Homo sapiens: one gene and its partners. The protein of the gene in region 1 purifies or fractionates together with the protein of each later gene. This does not show direct contact. Each region holds a gene or a part of one and is shown in the gene's direction. Other genes may lie near its edges.

What was found.
Region 2: the proteins of CCDC183 (region 1) and AP1B1 purify together in Homo sapiens (affinity purification with mass spectrometry; 3 studies listed by BioGRID and IntAct, with this or other methods). This does not show direct contact.
Region 3: the proteins of CCDC183 (region 1) and GRIPAP1 purify together in Homo sapiens (affinity purification with mass spectrometry; 3 studies listed by BioGRID and IntAct, with this or other methods). This does not show direct contact.
Region 4: the proteins of CCDC183 (region 1) and FOXP1 purify together in Homo sapiens (affinity purification with mass spectrometry; 3 studies listed by BioGRID and IntAct, with this or other methods). This does not show direct contact.

What each region holds. Positions count from the first base shown.
Region 1 is NC_000009.12:136,799,317-136,806,338, forward strand, and holds part of CCDC183 (coiled-coil domain-containing protein 183), read left to right. Parts: intron 1-396; coding exon 397-474; intron 475-685; coding exon 686-853; intron 854-1,072; coding exon 1,073-1,177; intron 1,178-3,347; coding exon 3,348-3,470; intron 3,471-4,610; exon of another isoform or gene 4,611-5,185; coding exon 5,186-5,311; exon of another isoform or gene 5,312-5,445; coding exon 5,446-5,500; exon of another isoform or gene 5,501-6,040; coding exon 6,041-6,141; exon of another isoform or gene 6,142-6,268; intron 6,269-6,733; exon of another isoform or gene 6,734-6,761; coding exon 6,762-6,922; intron 6,923-7,022.
Region 2 is NC_000022.11:29,385,571-29,392,853, reverse strand, and holds the start of AP1B1 (AP-1 complex subunit beta-1), read left to right. Parts: upstream 1-4,283; 5' UTR 4,284-4,430; intron 4,431-4,757; exon of another isoform or gene 4,758-4,945; intron 4,946-7,283. UniProt on the Homo sapiens protein: Subunit of clathrin-associated adaptor protein complex 1 that plays a role in protein sorting in the late-Golgi/trans-Golgi network (TGN) and/or endosomes.
Region 3 is NC_000023.11:48,999,250-49,006,958, reverse strand, and holds the start of GRIPAP1 (GRIP1-associated protein 1), read left to right. Parts: upstream 1-4,694; 5' UTR 4,695-4,729; coding exon 4,730-4,771; intron 4,772-7,454; coding exon 7,455-7,521; intron 7,522-7,659; coding exon 7,660-7,709. UniProt on the Homo sapiens protein: Regulates the endosomal recycling back to the neuronal plasma membrane, possibly by connecting early and late recycling endosomal domains and promoting segregation of recycling endosomes from early endosomal membranes.
Region 4 is NC_000003.12:71,573,727-71,580,748, reverse strand, and holds part of FOXP1 (forkhead box protein P1), read left to right. Parts: intron 1-7,022. UniProt on the Homo sapiens protein: Transcriptional repressor. Can act with CTBP1 to synergistically repress transcription but CTPBP1 is not essential. Plays an important role in the specification and differentiation of lung epithelium.

The sequences.
Region 1 (7,022 bases):
ACCCCAATCTTTCTGGATCCAGGGGGCATGTGAGGAGGGGCTCTGCTAGGACCTGTGCCCTGGGCTCCAGTCACCCCAGCATCCGGTGGGCAGGTTTCCCACCACCCAACCCGAGGGCTTGGCATCTGTGAGCCCACATCCTGCAGCAGGGGCCCCCTCTGGCTCTCCGGCCAGCTAGGGGACACCCAGGCCCTCCTCTGCATACCCCCCTACCACGTCGCCTCCGAACTTGGATGGCCAGGATGGGGTCCCGCGGCTCTCTGCTCCTCGTGGAAGCAGGGATCTCGCTACTGGGCTAGCGTGGGATACAAGAGGCCCTGGGGAGAATGCCTGGAGGAGCCAGCGGCTGCGGGTGCGCAAAGGGCCCGCTCTAGCTCAGCCGCCGCCGCTCCGCAGTATGACCAGTGGACCATCTCCAAGGCCTGCGGGAAAAACTTGCCTTTGCGACTGGCGCACTGCCGCAGCACCATGGAGGTAACCAGGCAGGAGGGGCCTCGAGACCCAACCCTCCCCACCCCTGCCAGCACCCCCCCACTAGATGTTGCGGAGCCGACGAGGGACGGAGCAGGTGCCCAGCCCCAGGTTCCCTGTGGGGTTGCCACGAGCCTCCACCCGCCCGCCTGCTGGCGGGCTCCATGGCGGCCCCCTACGCAACCACGAGTGGGCGGTGCCCTTCCCGACCCAGGTGGTGCGGGAGAAGCTGCGCAAGTACGTCTTCGACCGCGTGAACATGCACAACCTACTGATCCACCTGGTGCGGCGGCGCGGGCAGAAGCTGGAGAGCATGCAGCTGGAGCTGGACAGCCTGCGGAGCCAGCCCGACGCCAGCAAGGAGGAGCTGCGGCTGCTGCAGGTGGAGAGGCGGGGCTGGGAGGGCGGGGCGGAGTCCACTGGGGCAAGACTCACGGGAGGGGCGGGGCCACCGGGGGGCGGGACTTGCGGGTCCCCTGGGGAGGGCTCACGGGAGGGGCGGGGCTAAGAGAGCACGACCCTCTCCGGAGAAAACCCAGCCCCGACACCCTCCGGGCGGCCGGTCCCCACGCCCTCTCACTGCGCCCTCGGTCCGCCCCAGATCATCCGCCAGCTGGAGAACAACATCGAGAAGACAATGATCAAGATCATCACCAGCCAGAACATCCACCTGCTGTATTTGGACCTGCTGGATTATCTGAAGACAGTGAGCCCAGCGGCCCGGGAAGGGCGGGGGTCAGGGGCTGGGATCTGGGAGGGGCGGGAGCGTCCTGGGGCGGAGCCGCCCCGCACCCGCCAGGGAGAGGGAGCTCTGCCTGACCACCGGCTACGCAGGACGCCGAGGCATGTGGAAAACGTTTTTTTAAACTTCATTTTTGGCTATTCCAAAAAAGCATATCGTGGGGTATATCAGAATTCTTCGGACTTTCTTGCACGTATTAAATGATTTGGTATTGTTTGTATCTTGCCTGTCATTTTCTCATTGCCTGGGCCTCTGAGAGTCAGACAGGTCCTGCACCCTCAGAAAGTCCTTGCACCTTTGAGGGTCCGCTGGGCCTGTAAGCAGGGCTTGCTGCCGTCCCAGCCAGCCCACCCGCCCTGCTCCCTGCAGACGAGGCCAAAGGCAGCCAGCAGTCCGATTGTGAGGGAAGACCCCCTTCATGGGAGGCTGAGCACCGCCCCTCGGGCTGCCACAAAGCAGAACCTACTCCAGATGGGCTGTAGATAGGGAGAGCACAGGAGGTGCTAAGAGGAGCAACCTGTGGATGGGGCGGGGAGCCAGCTGGAAACACCCTCACCCTAAGACTGGGCAAAGGGGAGCTCTGGAGAGCCATGCTTCGGGAAGGTGACAGCATGGAAGTGCAGTTTAGGAGGAGTGGTGGACGGAGGCTGCATCGCAGCTCTTTTCCTGCTGTGGTCCCAGCCCAGGTGGCTCTCAGCACCGTCCTCTGCTTGTCCCTCTTGCCTTGGCCCCTGGTCCTATTGGCTCACCTGGAAGCCCTGCCCCTCTATGCTTCCTGGGCCCACCCCTCTCCCCACCCCTGTCCATGCCCCTCCTTCGCCTGGGTGCTTTCTGTTCCTCTGGTAGCGCCTTCTTCTGTTTAGAACATACACACTTAAAAAACAATTATTCCCGGCCTGGGCATGGTGGCTCATGCCTGTAATCCCAGCACTTTGGGAGGCCAAGGCAGGCGGATCACTTGAGGTCAGGAGTTCTAGACCAGCCTGGCCAACATGGTGAAACTTCATCTCTACTAAAAATACAAAAAGTAGCCTGGCATGGTGGTGCATGCCTGTAATCCCAGCTACTCGGGAGGCTGAGGCACGAGAATCACCTGAACCCAGAAGGCAGAGGTTGCTGCAAGCCGAGATCGTACCATCGCACTCCAGCCTGGGTGATAGAGTGAGATTCAGTCTCAGAACAAAGGAAAAAACAAGCAATAATTCCCATAGTCATCCATATTTTTAAAAATGAAGATTCTACACTTCTAGTTTTGTTTTTGTTTGTTTTGTTTTTTGAGATGGAGTTTCACACTGTTGCCCCAGCTGGTGTGCAGTGGTGAGATCTCGGCTCACTGCAACCTCCGCCTCCCGGGTTCAAGCGATTCTCCTGCCTCAGCCTCCCGAATAGCTAGAATTACAGGCGCCCACTACCACGCCCGGCTGATTTTTTTTGTATTTTTAGTAGAGACAGGGTTTCACTATGTTGGCCAGGCTGGTCTCTAACTCCTGACCTCATGATCTGCCTGCCTCCGGCCTCCCAGTGTTGGGATTACAGGCGTGAGCCACCGCACCTGGCCTATACTTGTAGTTACAAAAAACAAACCACTATAGCAAAGCTATCCTGAGCACGTATGTACCTGGTTCTGGGCTAAATAATTCCTTTTACACTCAATTCATCCTGATGGCAACCTTCTGAACGAGCCATCATCTTACAAATGGGGACACAGAGAGATTAAGTAACTTTCCCAATGTCACACAGCTAAACTAGCTGGTCAGAAGCTGCCTTGGCCTTGAATCCTGACTCTCTGACCCCAAGCCCATGTCTTGAGCCCCTCTGTTTCACTTCAAAGCAGAACTGTCCCCAAACCTCCCCGGGTTTCAGTCAGCCTTTTCTGCAGAGCATTTCATCACAAACTCTCTCAGTCTCTCTGGGTTGTTGGACCCTAGGTGGTGAAAGAGTCCACCAGGCCAGCACTGTCCACTCCCTGTGAAACACCTTTCATCACCGTTGTGCCCAGCGGGGAGTGGGGGAGGTGGCTGGGGCCACAGAGGAGAACCTATCACTGTTCTCAGGGCTCTTAGTCGGGGGATAAAAGCTCGGGGCAACTGCAGCCCACTCTGTAGGGGCCACAAGAGAACCCCATTCAACACAGGTGCTGGCAGGATACCCCATTGAGCTGGACAAGCTGCAGAACCTCGTGGTCAACTACTGCTCAGAGCTGTCGGATATGAAGATCATGTCCCAAGATGCCATGATGATCACGGATGAGGTCAAGGTGAGCTCAGGGCCCAGGGCTGGGGGCCCCCCAGGGCCAGCCCTCTTGGATCTTCGGATGGGGTCAAGGTGAGCTCAGGGCCCAGGGCTGGGGGCCCCCCAGGGCCAGCCCTCTTGGATCTTCGGATGGGGTCAAGGTGAGCTCAGGGCCCAGGGCCGGGGGCCCCCCAGGGCCAGCCCTCTTGGATCTTCGGATGGGGTCAAGGTGAGCTCAGGGCCCAGGGCTGGGGGCCCCCCAGGGCCAGCCCTCTTGGATCTTCGGATGGGGTCAAGGTGAGCTCAGGGCCCAGGGCCGGGGGCCCCCCAGGGCCAGCCCTCTTGGATCTTCGGATGGGGTCAAGGTGAGCTCAGGGCCCAGGGCTGGGGCCCCCCAGGGCCAGCCCTCTTGGATCTTCGGATGGGGTCAAGGTGAGCTCAGGGCCCAGGGCTGGGGGCCCCCCAGGGCCAGCCCTCTTGGATCTTCGGATGGGGTCAAGGTGAGCTCAGGGCCCAGGGCTGGGGCCCCCCAGGGCGGGCTCTCTTGTGTCTTCTGGCCAGGGTCTCTCAGGAGACCCCCATGCCCACACTGCCTACAATCCCCAGAAGGATCCAGTGGCCAGCCCGGCCAGCCTGCTCTGCTCACCCACTGGACAGAGCAGGTCCCATCCAGCACAGGAGCCATGAAGTAGAGGAGAGGGAGAGAACTGGCCGGGCCAGGGCGGGGGTCACCTATTCACCCAGTCTGTGCCAAGGTCCCTGCAAGGCTCTGGGGATACAGCAGGGACCGGGACAGGCAGACCCTGTCCTCCTGAAGTGGGTGGCACTCATCCAGTAGTCCATGAAGAAATGCCACACAGCCCCTGAGCCAGCTCAGCAGAGACAGGTGGGGTGGCAGATGGCTTTCCAGGAAGACAGTGCTTGAGCTGGGCTGAGGGATTGAACCCGCAAAGGTCAGGTGTGGCCAGGGCTAGGGAGGAGGAGGTACAACTTGGGAAAAGGCCCTGGGCTGGGAGGGGTGTGATACATGGAGCAGCGTGTGGCCAGGGCAGTGGAGGCTGCAGAGGCACAGGCCCCAGGAGTCCACGGAGGCGGCTGGGCTGGGGGCCCAAGGACTGACCTGGAGCCCTGGGAGGAGGTGGAGGAAAGATGTGACCAGGTCTGTGCTTCAGAAAGGGTGTACTCAGGCTGCAGGGACTGGAAGGTGCCAGGGCAGAAGCGCTGATCACCTGGGTATACCCGGGGTGGAGAAGGGGTGGCCAGGAGCAACGGAGCTGAGAACTCCTCAAGAGGCAACCCCACTAAGCGCTGGCAACGAGAGTGGCGAGGGTGAGAGCAGTGTCTGGGGTGCGTGAGCAGGGGTTAGCAGATGACGGTTTTAGCTGCCCAAGGGCACGCTGGAAGAGGCCAGGTTTTGGGGAAGAGGATGAATCTGTCTTCAGGCAGGCTGAATGCACTTCCGTGAGTTCTAGGTGGACCTGGCCAGGAGGCAGCTGGGGGCCAGCGGCTGGAGGGCAGCAGAGCGTCTGGGCTGGCACATGCTCTGAGGCATGGGCAAGGAGGGCCGTGAGCTGAGGGGCCACGGGCACAAGTGGTTTAGGAAAAGGGTGTGGCCATTGGCCGGGGATGCAGTTCCAAAGTCTAGTAAGGTGAGCATGGCCAACCGCCCGCTGGCTTTACTGCCATTAGGGGCCTTGTTGAGACAGCTCCCCAACCCTGTGCCCACCCGCATGTCCCCAGAGGAACATGAGGCAAAGGGAGGCGTCCTTCATCGAGGAGCGCCGGGCAAGGGAGAACCGGCTCAACCAGCAGAAGAAGCTGATCGACAAGATCCACACGAAGGAGACCAGCGAGAAGTACCGCCGGGTAAGCCCCAGGCCAGGGCCTGGCTGGCTGCCCATCCCCATGACAGCTGGGTGGACACAGGCTCAGGGCCACCACTCAGGGCCCACTCCCTGCCAAGGATGTCTCATCCCTTCCCCGCCCCCACCTCCCATCAGGGCCAGATGGACTTGGACTTCCCCTCGAACCTGATGAGCACGGAGACCCTGAAATGTAAGCGCTCAGCTCCCCACCTGCCCCCAGCCAGGGTCCCAAGGAGAGGCTGGCACTGATTCAGGCCAACGGATCAAGTCACCCTGAGGCCAGGTGTGACATGTGGTCGCCAGGGTGAAGGGAAGGACAGGTCCCTGCCTCTCCCTCCAGAGGCTGAGAGCCTGTAGCCAAATGTGGCCTCAGAGATGCTGGCCCCAGCACCCAAGGGCCCTGCACCAAGGGCCCAGTCCCCAGTGACTCTGCAGAGGATGAGCATCCTGACCCCTAAGCTGCCTCTGAGAAGCACCACCGGGCCCACAGTGCTCACAGTGCTGCGCCACTCACTCCGGGTCCACCTCTGCTCTGGGGCTGCCTGGGGCGTCCCTGCAGGGCTGGGCTGAGGAGGGAGCAGGTTGGGGCGGGGGCAGGCATCTCTGAAGGATGCCTGTGTCTTGGGTGGCCGCCCCAGCAGCTGGGCAGGTACAGAGGTGTCTGACAGCCTTACACAGAGCCCCTGAGCCATCCCTGCATGCTGACTGCCCCTCCCCTCTGCTCTGCCAGTGAGGAGAAAAGAGACCTCCACAGCAGAAATGGAATACCAGTCGGGCGTGACTGCTGTGGTGGAGAAGGTCAAGAGTGCTGTACGGTGCTCTCACGTCTGGGTAATGCCCCTGGCGCTCCCAGAGAATGGCAGGAGGGTGGCTGAGCCTCTCACGTCTGGGTAATGCTCCCTGGCACTCCCGGAGCATGGCAGGAGGGTGGCTGAGCTGGGCTGGGGTCTGAGGCACTCTGAAATGGACACACAAAGTGGCAACTCCCTCGGCCGCCCCAAATCCTTTTATCTTAATCCCATCTGTGTATCTGCGTTTATTATTATTAGGCCTTGAGCTCCTAACCACTGCCCTGACACAAGCTTGTCCACTGTCAGACAAGTGACTCAAGTGACACAACGTCCTTCAGTGATGATCTCCTTATCTCTACATGGGGTTATCTACCCTCTCTGCCTGCCATTAGGGTCGTGTGCAATGACATCCACAAAGCGCTTCACCCCTGCTAAGTGTGGTGGTGCACACCTGTGGTCCCAGCTACTCAGGAAGCTGAGGTGGGAGGATCGCTTGAGTCTGGGAGGTTGAGGCTGCAGTGAGCTGTGATCACACTTGTGAATGAGCACAGAGAAAGTGCACTAGCGTCTAGGAGGGGCCCAGAAGAAACCAGTTCTGTGAAGCCCCCTCTGCCCACCATCCTGGCCCACACCTGCTTCTCTCTCCCCCGGACTGGCCAGGACATCACTAGCCGCTTCCTGGCCCAGAGGAACACGGAGGAGAACCTGGAGCTGCAGATGGAGGACTGTGAGGAGTGGCGGGTGCAGCTGAAGGCCCTGGTGAAGCAGCTGGAGCTGGAGGAGGCCGTGCTCAAGTTCCGCCAGAAGCCTAGCTCCATCAGGTGCCCCGGGCTTCCGGGGCTGCGGGCCACCCACCCCAGTCTCACAAAGGCCCCGGGCTGCAGCCAGGCTGGGAGCTGGGAGTATACCCACTGCCAACAA
Region 2 (7,283 bases), on another chromosome or scaffold:
TATTTAAGTTCTCAGGGTTGAAGTTCCCCCCAAGATGAAATGGAGCTAAAACAACCCCTTCCTCATGGGGCCGATGTCAGGAGCAAATGAGATTTTCTGCACACTACCTGCCACGCTACATGTTCCATAAACATTCACTGTTGTTCTGCAGTTCCTGATTAAATACACTCTACTTGGCCGTGTGTGTTGGCTCATGCCTGTAATCCCAGCACTTTGGAGGTGGATCCCTTGAGGTCAGGAGTTTGAGACCAGCCTGGCCAACATGGCAAAACCCCATCTCTACTACAAATACAAAAATTAACCAGGCATGGTGGTGTGCAAATGCAGTCCCAGCTACTTGGGAGGCTGAGGCAGGAGGATTGCTTGACCCTGGGAGGCAGAAGTTGCAGTGAACCAAATTTGCACAGCTGCACTCCAGCCTGAGTGACGGAGACTCTGTCTTAAAAAAAAAAAAAAAAAAAAAAAAAAAAAAAAAGCCAGGTGTGGTAGCTCATGCCTATAATCCCAGCACTGTGGGAGGCCAAGGCGGGCGGATCACCTGAAGTCAGGAGTTCAAGACTAGCCTGGTCAACAGGTTGGAACCCCATCTCCACTACAAATACAAAAATTAGCTGGGTTTGGTGGTGGGCGCCTGTAATCCCAGCGACTCGAGAGGCTGAGGCAGGAGAATTGCTTGAGCCCGGGAGGCAGAGGTTGTAGTGAGCCGAGATTGCTGCCACTCCACTCCAGCCTGGGGGACAGAGCAAGACCCCGGCTCACCAAAAACAAAACAACAACAACAACAAAAACCTTCTACTTGTCCAGGCATCCCTGGTCCCTCCAACCCAAAGGAACTTCAGTTTTAGCTCTGGACTCCCATAGCCTCCCAGTATGTCCCCTCTCACAGCATCAGTCACACTTGTGACTTGCTCCTCTGTCACCCCCTCTCCCTGCAAACTGTAGGCTGAGCAAGGGCAGGGCCTTAGCCTCACCCATCTGACTATCCAGCACCCAGCCCAGGGCCTGGCTGAAACCAGAGGCTTGGAAAATGCTTTCTGCAGGACTCAGACACCTGGCTCCCTTGCACTGGGCGTGGGGGTGGGCCCGTGAGGTTTTCCTGCCTCGGCACAGTTCTTTTCTCTGGATTACCCTTTCCTTCTCTCTCAGCCTACGCAACTCTGTTCTCATTCGGCAAGACAGCGCAAATGCCATCTTCCCCAGGAAGTCCTTCCTGAGCCGCCCGGTGCTGTGACCTCTCCCTCCTTGGAAATCTTAAAGCTCTGACTCCTTCAACCACTGACTTGCCACTTGCACATAAGCTCTCCAGCTTGATACCTTTAGGTTTGTTGGTTTGTTTTGTAGGATAATTTTTCTCTTCTGATGTTACATTCCCAATGAAATTTTGTTTTCCACTGAGGCGGGTGGCATTTACCAACATCTATCATCAGAGAAGGGCAGTTCCTCCAGAAAGTTGCATATCACACATGCTGCATGGCACATACATACACATAAAATTATTCCAGGCACACAGAGGAAAGATCGTGTGAGGACATAGCAAGAGGGCGGCCATCTACAAGCCAAGGAGAGAGGCCTCAGAGGAAAGCAGCCATGCCAACACCTTGATCTTAGACTTCCAGTCCCCAGCACTGTGAGAAAATAAATTCCATTGTTGAAGCCAAAAGAAAAAAAAATTCCATTTGTTCCCTGACTACTTTTTTATTTTTATTTTTTTTGAGACAGAGTCTCACTCCGTCGCCCAGGCTGGAGTGCAGTGGTGCAATCTTGGCTCACTGCAAGCTCCACCTCCCGGGTTCACGCCATTCTCCTGCCTCAGCCTCCTGAGTAGCTGGGACTACAGGCACCCACCACCATGTCCGGCTAATTTTTTGTATTTTTTAGTAGAGACGGGGTTTCACTGTGTTAGCCAGGATGGCCTCCCTGACTACTTTTAAAAAGGATTTAAAAATGGAATAAGGTGGCCGGGCACGGTGGCTCACACCTGTAATCCCAGCACTTTGGGAGGCTGAGGCGGGCGGATCACAAGGTCAGGAGAGCCAGACCATCCTGGCTAACAACGGTGAAACCCCGTCTCTACTAAAAATACAAAAAAAATTAGCCGGGCGTGGTGGCGGGCGCCTGTAGTCCCAGCTACTCGGGAAGCTGAGGCAGGAGAATGACGTGAACCCGGGAGGCGGAGCTTGCAGTGAGCCGAGATCGAGCCACTGAACTCCAGCCTGGGTGATGGAGCGAGGCTCCGTCTAAAATAAATAAATAAATAAATAAATAAATAAAAATGGAATAAGGTTTGTAATTTAGATAACGGTATTTTACCAACACCACCAATTTCCTGCTTTTGCTATTATACTGCAGATATATAAAATGTCACCATTGTGGGAAGCTGGGTGAAGGGTATATGGGACTCAATTTTGGTACTAATTTTGCAATTTCCTGTAAGTCTATAATTATTTAAAAATAACTTTTAAAGGCTTTGAGGCTGCTTAAACATCTAAAATTATATTAAATATAAAAACCAGTAATATCTATATTAGATAGGACGTAGAGACTTAGCAATAAGTGCACTTAGCAGTAAGTGCAAGCTTATTTATTAACAACTTTTTGATAATATTAAAAAAGATGGATAACAACCTCAGGGGATTGTTTTTGAGATTAGCAGTACCATCCACGTAATGGAATACTATGCAGATACTGGAAAGTGCCAAGTAGAAATGTATTTACTATTTTGGGAAACTTTTACCAATATTTTGGTGAGTTAAAAAATACCAACAGTGGCTCACGCCTATAATCCCATCACTTTGGGAAGCTGAGGTGGGCAGATCACTTGAGGTCAGGAGTTCAAGACCAGCCTGGTCAACATGGTGAAACCCCCGCCTCTACTAAAAATACAAAAATTAGCTGGGCACGGTGGTGCATGCTTGTAATCCCAATTACTTGGGAGGCCCAGGCAGGAGAATCGCTTGAACCTGGGAGGCAGAGGTTGCAGTGAGCCAAAATCACGACACTGCACTCCAGTCCGGGCAACAGAGCGAGACCCTGTCTCAAAACAAACAAACAAAAAAAAACAAATGATCTATCAAGTTTGGAAGAATATTCACCAAAATATTAAAAGTGATTGTCTTAGGTCAGTGGGATTGCAGATGGTTTTTTTCTTTTTTCTTTTTTTTTTTTTTTGAGACGGAGTCTTGCTCTGTCGCCCAGGCTGGAGTGCAGTGGTGTGATGTCGGCTCACTGCAAGCTCTGCCTCCCGGGTTCACGCCATTCTCCTGCCTCAGCCTCCTGAGTAGCTGGGACTACAGGCGCCTGCCACCACACCCGGCTAATATTTTGTGTTTTTAGTAGAGACGGGGTTTCACCATGTTAACCAGGATGGTCTCGATCTCCTGGCCTTGTGATCCGCCCGCCTCGGCCTCCCAAAGTGCTGGGATTACAGGTGTGAGCCACCATGCCCGGCCATTTTTTTTCTTTTTTTGAGACAGGGTCTGGATCTGTCGCCCAGGCTGGAGTGCAGTGCTGCAATTATAGCTCACTGTAACCTCAACCTCCTGGGCTCAAGCTATTCTCCTGCCTCAGGCTCCCGAGTAGCTGGGACTACAGGTATGAGCCACTGTGTCTGGCTCAAGGTCACTCATCTTAAGAATGGAGGGGTCCAAACTAGAGCTGTAAACCTAGTTTGGACAGAGAGAGACCCCTCTGTAATCCCAGCACTTTGGGAAGCCGAGGCGGGAGGATCTCTCGGGTCCATGATTTCGAGACCAGCCTGAGCAATAAAGTGAGACTCTCTCTACAAAAAATAAATAAGTAAATAATAAGTAATTAGCCGGGCGTAGTGCTGCGCACCTGTGGTCCCAGCTGCTTGGGAGGCTGAGGTGAGAGGATCACCTGAGCCTGGGAGGCGGAGGGTGCAGTGAGCCCAGATCTTCGAGCCACTGCACTCTAGCTTGAGCAACAGAGCAAGACCCTATTTCAAACAAACAAACAAAAAATGAGTGACCTTGAGCAAAACCCTGCCCCTCTTAGAACCTCAGATTTGCCGTCTTTACACAGAAGATGGACTTCAAACTCCCTACGACCTTGCCCGGCCCCCTCACGCTGAATTGGCTAGCGGGATGGTTTCCCAAGGGCTCTGCGGGAGACTGCAGCATAGCAGCGCCGCGGCTGCCGAGGGGTTAATACCGTTGGGCTCTTCCCCTTTTCTTGCCCCGCCCCACGGGCACCACCCCCGCCAGGGTTGTACCCTTGACCCCGCCTTCAGGCCTTGCGTCCACCGGAAGTACCCGCGCGCGGGCAGCTCACTTCCGCCCGGCAGGTGACAGCCGCGGGGCTCCGAGCCGCCGGCAGCCCGGACGCACCGGGAGAGCGAGAGGTGGAGGCCGCGGACATTTTGGTGCCAAGCCGAACCGAGCCGGGGCGCCGGGAGCTATTGGGACCTGCGGGTGAGGAAGCGGGGACCCGGGCGAGCCAGGAGAAGAAGTGGGGCGAGGGGTCAGGGGTCCTAGGTGAGGGGTTTGCGGGGTCAGAGGTCATGAAGAGGACGCGGCGCTGCAGGGGCGCGAGCGACGTCCCCAGCCAGAGGAGGAGGAAGGGCTGAGGGTTCGTTCATTCATTCGCGCCCACTTGGCCGCCGGCCTGTTCCTCGGCCGCCCCATACCCGCAGCACCTCCTGGGGCTTCCGCCCGGAGAGACAGGACTTAGGCCCCGAGGAATTCCCCACTGGCCTGAGGGAAAACTCTTCGGGCTCTGATTTCCTCTTTCGGACTCACCTCCATGGCCATCCTGAGGCCTCCTCGTTGTTCAGGGCGTTATCTCTTTGCCAAGGTTGAAAAAGAAGAAAGAAAAAAAAACTAGAAAACGGTCCCGTGCCGCCCGCCTCCGGCTAGGCACTGGCTTGGTCTTGTTTGTTGGAGCCTCTAAGACAAGTTAACTGAATGGAGACACCGGTGATAATGCTGCAAAATAACGAGGGAGATGCTTGCTAGTGGCTATCGAGTCCCTTCTGTGTACCGGGCACTGTGCTAAGCACTTTCCTTACAATGACACATTTAAACTTCACAGCAACCTTTGTGGGGATTAAATATCCCTATTTTATCGATGAGGACCCTGAGGCACAGAGAGGTTAAATCCCACATGTAAGGTCATTCGGGTAGTAGAGGCAAGGCCAGGTTTTCTGCCAGGCTGTCAGAGACCTGCAAAGTACAGAGACAAAGGAAAGACTGGAGTTAAGGTTGGGGTGTAGGGGATATTTAAGACTTTTAGCCAGACATGGTGGCTCACGCCTGTAATCCCAGCACTTTGGGAAGCTGAGGCGGGTGGATCGTGAGGTCAGGAGTTCAAGACCAGCCTGACCAACATGGTGAAACCCTGTCTCCAATAAAAATACAAAAATTAGCCAGACATGGTGGCGTACGCCTGTAATCCCAGCTACTTGGGAGGCTGAGGCAGGAGAATCGCTTGAACCCAGGAGGTGGAGGTTGCAGTGAGCCGAGATCGTGCGACTGCACTCCAGCCTGGGCCACGGAGTGAGACTCCGTCTCAAAAAAAAAAAAAAAAAAAAGATTTTTAGCTGCCGTTGTATTTATTTGGATTTATGTCACGATGTAGCCTTATTGCTTTTTGTCTGATCTTCATAAGGGGCATTCGACTTACTTTCTTTAGGATAAAACAATCCTACAGGCTGTTGCTATTAGTGATACCTTTCAGGGCAAGAGTCTAAGATTTTCCTGACTTTAGGGAACAGTGAGACACAAAACAGGCTATCCGTGAAAACTATTTGAAGATTGTCGAGAACTTCTCTTCAGAGTGGTTGAGCTGCATTCGTTTTGGTCTAAAAAGAGAGGAACCACATGACCTCTAGGGGATCTTTTGGTCCTAGGTTCTGGAAGAAGGTACCCAGAGGAAGAATCTTTGCCTTTCTGAGAAATATGCAGGCCCCATGGCTTCTTGCCAGAGCAGAGCACGTCTTACTTGGGAGGTGGTGAGACGGTTTGGTGGCTGGAGGACTAGGCTGTATGAATCTAAGCCTCATTCCATTGCGGATATTCACTTGCTTCAATTCTGCCTCAGTTTCCCTGACATCAACATGAGAAAGACCTGCCGCCTTCCTGTCTGCTCCTAGGGGTATGAACCTGTGAATGAACCCGTGAGGGCTTCCACATGGCTTCTGAAGAAAGCTGTATATAAATATTACTGTAATACCTTTTTTTTTTAAGCTGTGTGATCTATTCTCCTAGTTCCATTGAATTCACAGAAACTTAATATTGTCACCTTATATTCCCATCCTTCCAAGGGAGGATTTGAGATGAAGCAACTTGTCACAGAGGGTAGGAACATGAGCAGAGCTCAGAGCTTCTGGTTTTCTGTCCTGAGTTGAGCCCACCAGTCTCCTCTGACCTCTTAGAAACTGTCATGAGGAGCATCTTCAGTAGGTCTCAAAGAGTCAGATCCCTCAGAGATTGTGTGAAGATCATCTGTTGAGTGTAGGTCAGTGGAGGCTTCACCCTGAGCTGCTTCAAGAGCCCAGAGGTATGATGGAAAGATCACCAGACTCCCAGTCAGTCAGCCCTGGGTTCAACCCCAGCTCAGCAGCTTCCTGGCAGTGTGACCTGACCTGGACCGTTGACATAGGCTGGCCCTCCTTTACCTCAGTTCTAAAATAATACTGGCCACCCTTTCTGACTCCTCTACCCCTGGTTTGTGTGAGGGTTAGATGGGAAAATTTGTGCAGGGCCTGTGATTTTTGGGTGCTTTGACTCTAGGCAGACTGATGCCTGCTGGGGGCCTGTGTCTGAGGAAGGCTGCCAACCTTGGCTTCTGGAGCGTTACTTCCTTCTGCAAACAGAGACCTTAATGTACGCAGGACTTTTTCCACCCTTCTTGTTTCACTTCCTAAAAGTAGTTCAGAACAAGTTCAATTTGTTGGTCCTTCTGGCTTTGAGCTTGGGCTTGCATCTTTTTCTAGTCATCCTCTGAAACTCTTGCATGTCTTAACTACTTCCCAGGAACTTCCCGTGTCTGGCACCAAAGCCTGACATGCTGACAGTAAGCAAACATGGCTTGGGTTTTGCACTTCGCTGTGTTTCTGAAGGTTGAGGTGACATCTGTGCCTTGCAGACATTTCTTTTTCTCAGCAGGTCTTTTTGCCTAAGAGACATCGTTGATATTATCACAGCCCAGAAGTGATTTTTCTGTTCTTTATGTCTTCACATGGAGAGGAACAAATACTCCTGAGAAAAAATGTCAACAGAGCAGTTGGGGAATCCTTAAAGAAAATTCTGCTTGAAAATTCATCA
Region 3 (7,709 bases), on another chromosome or scaffold:
GCAATCAGCTATTTCTCTAAGGGGCCCTGGTTCCTGTTAGTGGAAAATGGTAATTAGGCAAGAGAAATCAATTACAGCCAGTGTGACTGATTGGAAAAGAATAAAGATATCCCTATTTTCAGATGATATGATTTTGTACCTGGTAAACCCTAGAGAATCAATGATAAAACACTCTAACAATAAAAGTATTCAGTAAAATGGAAGGATATAAAATTAACATAGAGAAATCAATGGCTTTTGTATATATCAACAATAACCAGTGAGAGGATATAAAGACGCATAGTGGCTCACATGTGTAGTCCCAGCTACTTGGGAAGTTGAAATGGGAGGATGGCTTGAGCCCAGGAGTTCACGGCTGTAGTGTGCCATGATCATGCCTATAAATAGCCAGTGCAGTCCAGCTGGGGCAACATAGTGAGATCCTGTCTCTACCGAAAAAAAAAAAAGAGATACAATGATAGAGAAAACCTCATTTACAATAGCATCCATAGCATCAAAGAAAATAATTAGGAAGAAATCTAACAAGAAATGTGAAAAAAATCTATGTGTGGAACACTTTAAAATGCTTCTGTCAAAACCCATTGATCTTTACGATATAAAAAAAGTTTGTTAATGTATGCAAAATTTTAAAAAAAGCAACCAGGAGGTCAGGGAATCCAGTATGGAATGGAGACTGTGACAACATAATTTATATATTACAAATGTAGGCAAGGGCCGGGCACGGTGGCTCACGCCTGTAATCCCAGCACTTTGGGAGGCTGAGGTGGGCAGATCCCTTGCAGCCAGGAGTTTGAGACCAACCTGGCCAACATGGTGAAACCTGTCTCACCAAAAATACAAAAATTAGACGGGCATGGTGTCACGTGCCCATAATCCCAGCAACTTGGGAGGCTGAGGTAGGAGAATCGCTAGAACCTGGGAGGCAGAGGTTGCAGTAAGCCAAGATCGGGCCACTGAACTCCAGAGCGAGACTTCATCTCAAAAAATCACACACATACAAAAAAAAACCAAAAGTAGGCCTAGTGTGGTGGCTCACCCCTGAAATCTTAGCACTTTGGAAGGCAGATGTGGGTGGATCACTTGAGCCCAGGAGTTTGAGACCAGCCTGGGCAACATAGTAAGACTTGGTTTCTACAAAAAATTAAAAAAAAATTAGCTGGGCATGGTAGCCTGTGCCTGTAGTCCCAGCTACTTGGGAGGCTGAGGTAGGAGGACTGGTTGAGCCCAGAAGGTCGAGGCTGAAGTGAGCCGAGATTGCACCACTGCACTCCAGTCTGGATGACAGAGCGAGACCCTGTCTCAAAAAAAAAAAAAAAAAGAAAAAGAAAAGGAAAAGGCCGTGTGTGGTAGCTTAGCTCACGTCTTTAATCCCAGCACTTTGGGAGGCCGAGGCGGGTGGATCACCTGAGGTCAGGAGATCGAGACCAGGCTGGCCAACATGGTGAAACCCCATTTCTACTAAAAATACAAACGTGGTGGTGGGTGCCTGTAATCCCAACTACTCGTGAGGCTGAGGCAGGAGAATCGCTTGAACCCGGGAGGCAGAGGTTGTGGTGAGCCAAGATCACGCCATTGCACTCCAGCCTGGGCGACAAGAGCAAAACTCCGTACACCCTCACCCAAAAAAGTTGTTAATATTCCTAATATGCAAAGAGGCCAGGTGCGGTTGTGCACACCTGTAACCCCAGCACTTTGAGAGGCAGAGGCGGGAGGATAACTTGAGGTCAGGAGTTTGAGACCAACCTGGCCAACATGGTGAAACCCCGTCTCTACTAAAAATACAAAAATTAGCTGGGCATGATGGTGGGTGCCTGTAGTCCCAACTACTTGGGAGGCTGAGGCAGGAGAATCTCTTGAACCCGGGAGGCAGAGATTGCAGTGAGCCGAGATTGCACCACTGCACTCCAACCTGGGCAACAGAGGGAGACTCTGTCTCAAAAGAAAAATAATAATTAAATTAAAAAAATAAAATAAGAACAGATATTAAAATGATTCTTGGTGGCATATGTCTGTAGTCCCAGCTACTTGGGGGGCTGAGGTGGGAGAATTGCTTGAGCCCAGGAAGTCAAGGCAGCAGTGAGCCCTGATTGTGCCACTACACTCCTGCGTGGGCGGTAGAGCAAGACCCTGTCTCAAAATAAAATAAAATGAAATAAAATAAGTTCGGGCACGGTGGCTCATGCCTGTAATCCCAGCACTTTGGGAGGCCGAGGCAGGTGGATCGCCTGAGGTCAGGAGTTCAAGACCAGCCTGACCAATGTGGTAAAACCCTGTCTCTACTAAAAATACAAAAATTAGTCGGGCATGGTGGCAGGCGCCTGTAATCCCACCTACTTGGGAGGCTGAGGCAGGAGAATTGCTTGAACCTGGGAGGCGGAGGTTGCAGTGAGCTGAGATCGCGCCAATGCACTCCAGCCTGGGCAACAAGAGTGAAACTCCGTCTCAAAAAAACAAATAAATAAAAATTAAAAATAAAATAAACATAGGACAAGGTGGTGAATCTCACTCATAATAAGAGAAACACAAATTAAAACTACACTAAGAGAATGGATAAACAAATTGTGGTATAGTCATACTATGGATTTTGTTTTGTTTTGTTTTGTTTTTGAGACAGAGTTTTCCCCTCTATCGCTAAGGCTGGAGTGCAGTGGCACGATCTCGGCTCACTGCACCCTCCACCTCTTGGGTTCAAGCGATTCTCATGCCTCAGCCTCCTGAGTAGCTGTGATTACAGGCGTGTACCATCACTCCTAGCTTATTTTTGTATTTTTAGTACAGATGTGGTTTCACCATGCTGGCTGGGCTGGTCTTGCACTCCTGACCTCAGGTGATACACCTGCCTCGGCCTCCCAAAGTGCTGGGATTACAGGCGTGAGCCACTGAGCCCGCCCGGCCCATACTATGGAATTTTACTAGTCAATAAAAAGAAAAAAAGATACTTATACACGAAACAACTTGGATGAATCTCAAAAGGATTATGATGAGTGAAAGAAGCCAGACAGAAAAGGATACATCCTGTCTCATTCTATTTGCATGAAACTCTGCAAGAGAAATGTAATCCAGTAACAGGAAGCCAATCATTGGTTACCTGGGATAGGGGGTGGGGTTTGGGATAGGATACAAAGAAATCAATGTTCCCTATCTTGCTTGTGATGGTGGTTACAAGGTTGTATACATTAGACAAAGCTCACTAAATTGTACCCTTAAAATGGGTGCATTTATGTATATAGACAGATCAATAGCGTTATCTTTCAATAAAGTCAATTAAATCAAGAAAGAAATCAAAGAGTCCTGGCTGGCAATACTTTTCTTTTTCTTTCTTTTCTTGGAGACAGAGTCTCGCTCTATCCCCCAGGCTGGAGTGTAGTGGTGCGATCTCGGCTCACCGCAACCTCTGCCTGGCGGGTTCAAGCGATTCTCGTGCCTCAGCCTTCCGAGTAGCTGGGATTACAGGCGCCCACCACCACACCCGGCCAATTTTTGTGTTTTTAGTAGAGATGGGGTTTCACCATGTTGGCCAGGTTAGTCTCGAACTCCTGACCGCAAGTGAACAGCCCTCCTTGGCCTCCCAAAGTGCTGGGATTACAGGCGTGAGCCACCGCGCCCGGCCCTGCTGGAAATATTTTTCCACAGCAGGGAAATCATTAAATTCTACGAAAATAAGAAGGCTGGGCGCGGTGGCTCACGCCTTAATCCCAGCACTCTGGGAGGCCGAGGCGGGCGGACTACCTGAGGTCGGGAGTTCGAGACCGGCCTGACCAATATGGAGAAACCCCGTCTCTACTAAAAAAAAAAAAAAAAATTACCCGGACGAGGTGGCGGGCGCCTGTAATCCCAGCTACTCGGGAGGCTGAGGCAGGAGAATCGCTTGAACTCGCCAAGCGGAGGTTGCTGTGATCGGATATCGTGCCACTGCACTCCAGCCTGGGCAACAAAAGTGAAACTCCGTCTCAAAAAAGAAAAACAACAACAACAACAACAACAAAAACAGAAAGAAAAAAGAAAATAAGAAAAAAACTACACTGAGATACCATTTCTTACTCTCAGATCGGTGAGGGTTATAGTGAATTCTAATACTTGAATGAGCCTGGTGTTTCACCACCCTGGTTTGTTTTTTGTTTTTGTTTTGTTTTAATGTAGCTTTTTCGTTTGATTCACTGTCACTCTTTCCACTCTGCTATTTTTATTGGTGGCTAAGTCCTTTACCTAACGTGACATGCAGTATCATGATAACAAAATAAGTGTCAAACCTTAAAAAAAAAAAAAAAAAAAAAGGCCAAAGGCTTTACAAGAGGTGGGATTCCCCTTTGGGGTCTCCCGGAGGAGGGGCGGGAACAAGACCAGAGCGAAGCTTCCGCTTTCATTTCTATGGTTATTAAGTTACCCATTCTCATTAAAGGAATACCGCGGAAGGGTGATTTTCTGTCGGCAAAGACTTCCCTAGCGACGAGTCCACCCATGAAACGGGGATGTAATAATGTCGTATCACAATGGGTGGCCTAGAAGAGTCCAAAAGCCAATCAGATGACTTACATTCGGGTAGAACGTTGTATTACAGTTCACCTGACTCGTCGGTTTCGTTCTCTTCTCTGCGTCTCCAAAATGCTGCCCTTCGGAATTAGGTTCTACCCCCTCCATTCCTGGCCAGTGGTTTGGTCCGACCTTAATACTGCCAGGAGGCGCGAGCTGCGTCTGCGCAGAAAGCTGGCGGGGGGGTGGGGGGAGGAACATGGCGCAAGCTCTGTCTGAGGAGGAGTTTCAGCGGATGCAGGTGCCGCTCGCGGTGGGAAAGACCACCCGGCTAGGCGACCGGGGGCGGGGTAGCGAGAGGTCGTGCTATCAGCTCTGAGAAGGGGTTGGTTGGGATGGACCCTGAGTTTATGGGGTGGGTCTGGAGAAGGGAAACTGAGGCTCGGAGTGGTGAGACTATTGGATTCCGAGATACTCTGCGGCTTTGAAGGTTGGACTCTGTTAGCATTGTGGGCTGGGAGAGCGCCATTAAGTAGGCGGTACCTTACTCAGACCTGGAGGGGACGAGACTTTTGGGCCCGTGCAGGGGACACCGTCGGCGGGTGATGATAATGGGCTTTGAGGGAAGGAGATCCTGAGAAGGCGAAACCATTTTGTCTGGAGAGGAAGGAAGCGGGTGTTGGGTCGTTTGCGTCATGGTGGTGGGAGCCCTTGAGAGGGCAGAACCATTAGCGGGTGGGAGGTGGTAAGTTTTGGGGGAGATACCACTGTGCCCGGGGATTGGGGAAAGACCCCAGATGTTGTCATTGTTCCTGGGAGGTGGAGATCCTGTGCCATTGGTGGTTGGTAGTGCATCCTAAGAGGGGGCGGCACCATTGGATGATTAAGGGTGATCCCATTAGGCCTGGGGTGAAGAAGGCCATGAATGGGTAATACCATTAATCCCATTAACTGGGGGGAGGACCAGAGGGGTAAAAGATTGATACCTTGGACTACAAGGAGGGAAGATCACTGGGCTTTGGGGAGGTACCCCCACTTGATTCTTTTGGGGGGACTCTGAGATGCAATGAAAGGCCATAGCATTGCACTATGAATGGGCCCTTGTTGAGAGGGTTCCTCACTGGGGGGGGGGTCTGAACAGGGTCCTGCATGGGGAGGGGAGGAACTCTGAGGGAGGACAGGTAATCCAATTGGTCCTTGAATGAGGGAAACCAGCTGTCCCTGTGTGAGGGACACTGAGAATGGAAGGGCGAGTTGATTAACCCATGAATGGGGAAGACCACTGTCATCTGAAAGGGATTCTAAGTGAGTAAGAGTCATCCAACTGGCCTACCCAAGGCCTTGTAGAGGCCTACCCTGAAGGGTGTAGGGCCATTCCCAATGGATCATGACTGGGGAGATCTTGAGGGGAGTGGGAATACCCTTGAATGAGGAACATTGATCCCACTGGGCCATGAATGAGGGAGAACTACTGGGCTTTGTTGGGGGGCAAGTCTCGGGGGGTACAAAGGATATTCCACTTGGACCAGTACTTGGAGAGACAGATCACTGGGTCCTGGAGAGGACAGGAGTAGGAAAGATTCTGTGAAGGCCAAGCCCTCTGACCTTGAGCAGACTACCAGAGAACAGTGAGTGGAGGCTGGTGGCGTGGGAGGGAGGGAAAAGTCCTGGTAGGGGAAGGAACAGTAAGTTCCTTAATGGGAAGGAACCGGCCTTGCTGGGTAGAACCAGCCTCAGGGTCCTATAGGGCTGGTAGGGAGGAGGATGCTTAATTCTTTTTCTTTTTCTTTTTTTTTGAGACAGAGTCTTTCTCTGTCACCCAGGCTATAGTGTGCAGTGGCACGATCTCAGCTCACTGCAACCTCCACCTCCCGGGTTCAAGTGATTCTCCTATCTCAGCTTCCCTAGTAGCTGGGATTACAGGTGCGTACCACCACGCCCAGCTAATTTTTGTATTTTTAGTAGAGATGAGGTTTCACCATGTTGGCCAGGCTGGTCTTGAACTCCTGACCTCAAGTGATCTGCCCACTTTGGCCTCCGAAAGTGTTTGGATTACAGGTGTCAGCCACTGCGCCTGGCACTTTCCCTTAATTCTTTTTTTTTTTTTTTTTTTTTTTTTTTTTTGAGACAGAGTCTCACTCTGTCACCCAGGCTGGAGTGCAGTGGCACAATCTCGGCTCACTGCAACCTCCACCTCCCAGGTTCAAGCGATTCTCCTGCCTCAGCCTCCCGAGTAGCTGGGACTACAGGTGTGCGCCACCACACCCGGCTAATTTTTTATATTTTTAGTGGAGACGGGGTTTCACCATATTGGGCAGGCTGATTTTGAATTCCTTACCTCGTGACCCACCCGCCTTGGCCTCCCAAAGTGCTGGGATGACAGGTGTGAGCCACCGCACCTGGTCCTCCCTTAATTATTGAAGGGGGCCTGGATGTATTTTGAGAGCCTTGGAGGTGGGGGGACCCTGGAAAGCCCCCTGACTCAATGAAAGTTGGGCAGAATACTTGACCCTTTTCCCTTAGGAAAGAGGGAGGAAGACAGGCCCTTAACCCCCTGCCATCAGAGGCCCCCAGGTCTGGTCAGAAATATGGACAACACCCCTGACAGTGTGTGTTCAGTGTGTGGAGAGGTCAGCCAGGATGAGGAGGAGGAACTTTATCCTGTGGGCATGGAGAGCCAGGGAACTCACACAAGCAAGACCCTGACTGGGGGCAGTGCTCTGGGATGGCCTGAGTGCAGCGTGGATTGTAGTGTGAGATGGAGGGGTGAGGCTGGCTGGGGTTATAAGTGGAGCTGGAAAAGGTGAGCCAGGGTCTGAGGGCCTGGAAGGTCACTTTGGGTGTAGCACATACAGGTCTTAAGGAGTAGCTACAGAGGCACATGGAGGGCGTAAGGTCTGTGGAGCTTAGGGGCTTGGTTCCCTCATGGTAGGGGTAGGGGCGCTTTCCTGACCAAGTCTTTTCCCTTCCTGCCTCCCCCAAAGGCTCAGCTCCTGGAACTCCGGACAAACAACTACCAGCTTTCAGATGAACTACGCAAGAATGGTGTTGGTGAGCCAGGAGGGCCTTATTAGATGGGGGTGGCTTTGGGGAATGGTGTCCGAGGTTTTCCCTCAGAGGCCTGGCAGGAAGGCCTTTCAGTTTCTTGCCACTGGCTGAGGCTGAGTTTCCCTGCTTTCCCGACACCAGAACTCACCAGTCTTCGACAGAAGGTCGCCTACTTGGATAAGGAGTTCAGC
Region 4 (7,022 bases), on another chromosome or scaffold:
GGAATTTTTCTGCTACTGAAAATATATTGAAGAATCGCTGCAAAATTTTTCCATTCCATCCCCTTTCCCCCACCCCCGTTTTCCACAGCAAGAATCAATTTGGAGGGAGATGTGTAAACTAGAATTTTTAAAGAAATAGTAAGACTTCAGGTGTTTTCTACCCAGGGATAGCCTACATAATTGAGAAAGAGGAGTTCCTGCTATTTTTCTGTTCCAGAGAGAAATGTATCAAATCTTTTTTAGAATTCCACTGGAGTTTTGATTCTCAAAGTGGAAATACCCATCCCTTTGGGTCCAGGAAAAGAAAACTCAGCTCACAGTTTCAGAAATTTGGACTGTTTTTTTCCCCCCTCTGTCTTTCTATTTGAAACGTCTCACAATTAAAGAGCAAGAAAAATATAAAAAAGGAACTCAACTAGTTACCATTCAAAAGGTGTCAGCTAAAATCTCACTGCAAAGGGAAAAAAAAAGGTTTAACATCTTGCCACTGGCTGCATCCCCCACCCCCCTTAGACTTTGGATTAGTCATTGTATGAGAGAGAGGGAGAAAAAAAAAATCACTTTTTTTTTTTTTTTGGAAAAGTAAAGTAAACAGCCTCCAACTGCTGAACCTTGACAACCCAAATTAAGGAAGCAGGAGAGATCAAACAGAACTGCTGCTGGGTGGTTGTCAGGAGCTGCTACACGGAGAACCCTGGACTATTCGATCAAGCAGCAAGGCTATATGTTCACTTATGCAGAAATGGACCATTGCAGATGCTAATCTTTGTTGTGCAAGCGAAGGCTCACTTGGAAGGAAATACTCAGCCCCTCTCTGGGCAGCATTTGAGTTCCTTATGGATGCCGAGTCGCGAAACAAGTTATTTTTTTTAATGTATCCTTCTTTATGAGGAGAATGCTACCCAAAAATGTATTAAAGGAATATTAAGTCGTCCAGAGACTGTCTTGCTACCAAGAACTGTGCAATGGAATTCTTTTTACCAACATTAGACTCCTACACTAGAGTTAGATAACGTTTTCTCACATTGAGTTTAGAAGATCTGCCTTGTCAGGGAAGCCAAGGTTTTGTATGTGAGAGTTTAAATCTGATGTGAAGCTCAAAAAAAAAAAAAAAAAGAAAAAAGAAAAAAAAGAAAAAAAAAATCTCTGGTGATGAAGTTTTGTGTCAGCCCACTCTTGGAATTTAAAAAGGCGAGAGAGAGCAGTCTCCAGATTAGACAACCTCTTTTTTTAGATTGACATTCAACATGACCACGTTGCTACTTTTATTCAAGTTCTCTGTAACTTGTCCTTGCTTGTTGTCTAGGAAAATTTAACTACTTTACATTTTTAAAGGGAGTAGTAACAGTAATTACTGTAGCATTTTGTTTTCACAGGTTTATCAAAGTATAATGAAAGAAACATCAACTATTCAAATTAACTGTCTCAGATAAGGGGTTTATATTGCTGGAGATGTCTAAGATTTTGTGTTTATATTTAAATCGTGGAGTATAAACTGTGTAACACTTTTTTTTTTCTGGGATAAACTATCCCCAAATTAAATGTTATTTTAAATTAAGTAGAACAAAGTAGGAAACAGGATAAGTAAACACATACAGAAGAATAAAAATAATTGTCATTTAAGGATTATATTTTTAATTAACAAGTGTCGGTCACATAGTAAGCAGTTTATATATTTTTTGTAAGCCAGAGTTTCATAACCATGGTGCACAACATGTTTCAAAGTCTGTAGTTTTTACTAGATATACCTTTATTGTATAATTAAGCAATGTGGGTTAAACATACACATGGATGCTATTAGGCAATTTTCTGCAATATGTAATGTTTTGAAAACGCTATAAATATTTTCTAGTTAAACCATTTATACTTATAATAGCAAAAGTTAACTGAGTTAATATTGAGCCTAGGCATGGTTTTCTGTTACTGAGTTTTTCTTTGCCTTTTTAAAGACTATACCCCTGGCCTTGTAAATTTGCATCTTAGGCTCTGTTGAAGGGTATGTCTGTTTTCAGCAGTTGTTTAAATTAACAGAAGAATTGTGATATTTTTCAAATATATTTATATTGCAGGGGGTCCAGTGCCAAAATTAAGAAAGAGAAGGAATATAGCAGATGTGACAACTTCTTTTGAACCCAGCTTCCTCTTTGCAGCCAATCTTATTGTGCATATTTATTTGATTTTCATGTTTTACTTATGACTCAAACTCAGTTTTGAAACACTATCTTGTAAGATTCCACATCTCAAAAAGTATGTATATTTAGACAAGGTTAGGTGTTACAGTACCTATCACATTTCAGTGGGAATGCCAAGAATATTTACAGGGTATAGCAAGAATTTTGTCCTTTAAAAATAATTTTAGGTATACGTTAATAAAACCGAAGTAGATTGCAGGCTGTCAGAACATAGTATAAATTTTGTTTATGATTCTGTTACTTTAAGGTACTTACATTAAAGAAACTCATTTAACCCGTGACTGAAGAGCATTAAGTGGGGAGGGAAACCCTCTGAAGAGCTCCTACTGCCCTTTGCTCTCCCGATAATCTTAAATTACTACAATTTAATTGCAACTTCAAGGCATTCAGCATGAGCTGTTTCTTCTCCACGACCGAGAAAGGGTTTCCAGAGCATGGCTAGATTTACACAGGTGGTATTTTTGTTTTTAATTTTTTTTTTCTTTTTGCTAAGGGCTTTTCCTTTCTTCCTTATCCTGTCAGATGTCACACTTCTTTTATAGATTTCAGTCATAGTAAATGCCATTTTTGCTATACCAGCAATATTGGCCTTCTTTTTTTCTTTTTAAATGTGTTTTTTTGAATCTAGAGTATATAAACCTCTCAAGCAGGTAGGGGTTTGTTTTCTAAAGAAAATAACCTCAAGAAAGGCATCTGCTGAATAGACAGGTGAACTTTATACCTGAGCCAATGTATACTTTTACTATTTGCAGGGGATTTTTTTTTTTTAAGTTGATGGTAGTTAGTCCCACCAGGTGATCAAACATTGAGTTTGTGAGACAAGCCAGCAAGCCAAGTAGGTTTGCACTTGGGCCCATGCATTTTTTTAATGATCTTTCTTGTCATTTGTTACTCTACTCTGCAGGCCACTTTGCTATACATATGCTATCCAAGGAACCATCTTAAACTGATTTTTCAACATATTTCTCTTCTCCGGTACTTGGATGAATTAAGGATAAAGGCTCCAAAAGCTGGAATGCCAGCAGGCCTTGAGATGAGGCAAGTTCCTGAAACGGGCAAACCTGGCGAAATTTGGGGTATCTTCTGCATGATAGTTTTTTTCCTTTTTTTTTTTTCCTGGGACGTTTGTAGTTTATTTCAATGAGCATGTGACCATGTGCTTAATGGAAATTAAGCAGATTTGGCTTGTGTCGCTAACCTAAAAATAAATGTTGTAAGGAATATTTGATTTCTAGAAGTGTTTTGGTTTTGCATCCCATAGATAATGTTCTTACAGTTAGGGCTACGAGGCTGGTATTCTGCAAAGAGGAAGTACAATGGGGGAAAGTGCATGGCAGTCAGGAAAGACAATTAGACAGTGTTCTTTGTTTCTTTAATAAATTATTCTTATTAATTACAGTCAGTTTGTGCTAAGGCATTTTTCAATCCTTGTTTAGAAGTCAGCTGCCATTCACAAGAAGGTTGTGCCAGAAGCTGTGTTCTTCGCACGCACTGTTGTTTTACCCAGTCGTGAAATCTATTGACCAGATTGGCTTGTGGATGTCTCTGCAAGGCTTGTTTTTCTTTTTGCAATGCCCTGATGCCAGTCTTTAATACATGCCCTGCCTTGTACACAACAGGTGTTTGTTCGGTAGTTATTTTATGGGACTTAGAGTGAGAAAAAAATGTTTCCTATCTAGCCAGCCGCTGTGAGAACGAGTGCCTGAAAGGGAGAACCTACCTAGTACCTGAACAGGTGTAAATGGGTGTTTCCTCATGACCCTCCCCAAGCTGTTTTATTTCAAAAGGAGGGGAGGGGGGCTCAGTTTAGTGCCATGAAATTTACAATTCAGTTGTAATAATTTAAGGTTATTGGTAGAGTGCAAAGGGCAGTGGGAGCTTTCTAGTGGTTTGGCCTTGATGCTTAAAGCTGCTCAGTTGTAGGGTTAAATTAGTTCCTTCAGTCTGAGTACTTAAAGTAACTAAATCGTAAACAAAATTTATATTCGATTCTGACAACTAATAATCTATTTAAATTATATTAAAGTATCTGGGCAAAAATTTAATTAAAGACAGAAGTACTGTCAAGCCCTGTAAATATCTTGACAGGTCTACTCAAATGGAACTGATATCACGAAATATTTACATATGTCTGCTGTGTTCGGGAACATCTCAGCAGTGCCTGTGCAAAGCTAATTGCACTTTCCTTCCAAATTGTATTTTTAATAAAATAGTTTTTTTTTTAAAAAGGAATATGAATACATACACAGTTGTGTTCCAGTGTTCTGTTTACTATTTACTTCTCTATACTCAGAATCATGTTGTGATGAGTGTATTTCCTCAAACTGCTGCTAATTCAGATAAATAGCTGAAATGGGATCATTGAATAGAAAGCCCATGTCATTCTGTTTGATTTCAACAGTTTGAAGATATCAGAGGCTAGCATGTTATAGGACAATTTACTGAGGGAAAAATGGATCTGAATGTGGGATTATTGGGCCTTGTTTATGTTCAATAGAATAGATTTGCTTAGGACAAACATTTTCTCTGAGTTTTATGTTTGGACATATATTTATTTATTACTTGTAAGTCAGGTGGACATCCACATTTTACCAGATGCTCTGATTTTAGCTAATTTTGTGATTCACTTTGTTTACTAGGACACTGAAGAATATTTCTAGCATCAAACTGAATTTCCGAGGTGTCCTTTCTCCCTCCCAGCTGTGCAATTGAGTCATAATGTGACTTTCTCTGCTCCAGGTTCCCTGCTTTTGAATTAGGGGTAATATTTTAACATATGTTCTTTGAGCTTAGGGATCCAATGATACAGGGCTTTGTTATTACTCACATTTTTAAAAGATATTCTTGGTGCTCTCAGGACAGTGACCGCAGCTTTTGTTGGGGGAGGGTGTGATGTGAGTTTTGCTTGAGTTTCTTTTGCCCTGGTGCCTACCTCCTGATGACCAGTGGCACTGGTGGCTTCCCCTCCTGGGGGTGAGCACAGAGATGGAAGTGAATGCTCATGTCTGAAGTGAAGGGAGGTTGCAGTTGGTCCTAATTCAGCCTGGTTCAAAGTGAGGTCCTCGCTCACCTACCTCTGTATCTGTGTGTGTGTGTGTGTATGTGTGTGTGTGTAGGTTATTAAAATACAGATCCTTGAGTCAGAATTTTTGCTGATTGACATGGTAACGTACATTTATAACAAACTTCCCTTGATAATTCTGATGCATGCTAGAGACCTGTGAATCAAGTGATTTATTCTTTCAGATGTGTGGAACTGAAATCTCTATCTTCACTTGGATTTTACTGATGATTTCTTTGATTTTACCTTGAGGCCCATCCTGTGTTGTTTTTAATGTATTTGGATTTTTATTACGAATGAAAAACGGTGGTTTTTAACCAAGCACGAGTATTGGAATCACAGCAGAGCTGTTGTTCCCAACACAGACACAGTTGCACGACTCCTGGATGTGCCGTATCTGGGGTGGGGCCAGCATCTGTGTTTTTAAATCGCATCCCACATGGTCCTGATGCCCACCAAAGTGGGAAAACTGGACCTGTCAATTATCAGAGTTGGAGGAAAGCCTGCAACCCTTCTTAAGAGTTTAATTGAATTGGTTGGCCATTGTGAAACCTAAGAGAAGAAAACGGAGCTCCTTTTTCAGGAGGGCACAAAAAGAAACCTTGGAGACTTAGAGAAACAGAGGCAGAACAAGAGCCTCACAGTTCAATAACGTGATAGGAACAACCTGGAACATCGGTGGTTTTCACCAAATGTCAATATCAGATAATTTCCTTTTGAATTTTGTCTTGCCTGCATCCATGTTTCCCAATGGGTGTTGTCATGCTGTAGCTACCAATTAGTGTCAGATGACTCTCTAGAATTTTTTTTTCTGAGTATTCCATCTTAATTTTAAAATTGTAACTGTTTGCTCTTTGGATTAACCCTGCTGGCAGAAGTATTTTGATTTTCCCAAGCATCTTGGGAAATTCTCTATCGTATGTGATGGGGCATGCACGAATATTGATGGAAATAGCCTAGCCAACGATGCCACACAAATAAAGAAACCAGAATCCTAAGAAGAAGGCATCCTACAAGATTATGAAATAAAGGAAGATAAAATGTTAAGGAGGCTTATTTAAATATTCAGGGCTTCAACTAAAGATCTAACCACTAAGATCAAAAGAGTTATTTAAATAAAAGTTGTTGAGACATTTTTTCATCTGTATTAATAATGTGGCTTTTGAAGTTACCCGGTAATAATGTGTCCATAATGCCCACACCTAATTTTTAATTTCCATTTTGGCTTTAGGTGTGGCTTTATTTTAATAGCTGCCAAAAAGTTGGCAATTGTTTTTACGTTTAGAACTTCACAGTTTGCTTTTCTGTAGGTTTAGGTAGCATTGGGGATATTCGTCTAATAAAAACTTTTAAAATTTCTGTTCTGACCCTGAGGCACTTAAAAAAAACTCTTATGGGCCAAATTTTAAAAGTAGAGTGTCTCTACTACTGCATAAAGAATTTCTATAAAAGATGAAACATGGAGCTGATTGAAAGAATAGACGGCGCAATGGTAGAGGACACATAGTTACCACTGTCACTGGTAATCTACAGCTTGATGCGAAGTCATTCCGCCTTGTTTGTTGAAATGTTAATCATTTCATTAAGAAAGGTTAAGTAATTAACTGATATTTCATTAGGGAATCAATGACAGACCTTTTTTTAGTGATGTATGGTAGATATTTTCTAATAGAAAGTTTGCCCCATTTAATTATTTGGAAAGAAGCTAGTTGATTGAGCCTTGGGAAGGAGGGGTGGGGCATCTTCAGATAACATCTATGTCCATAAGC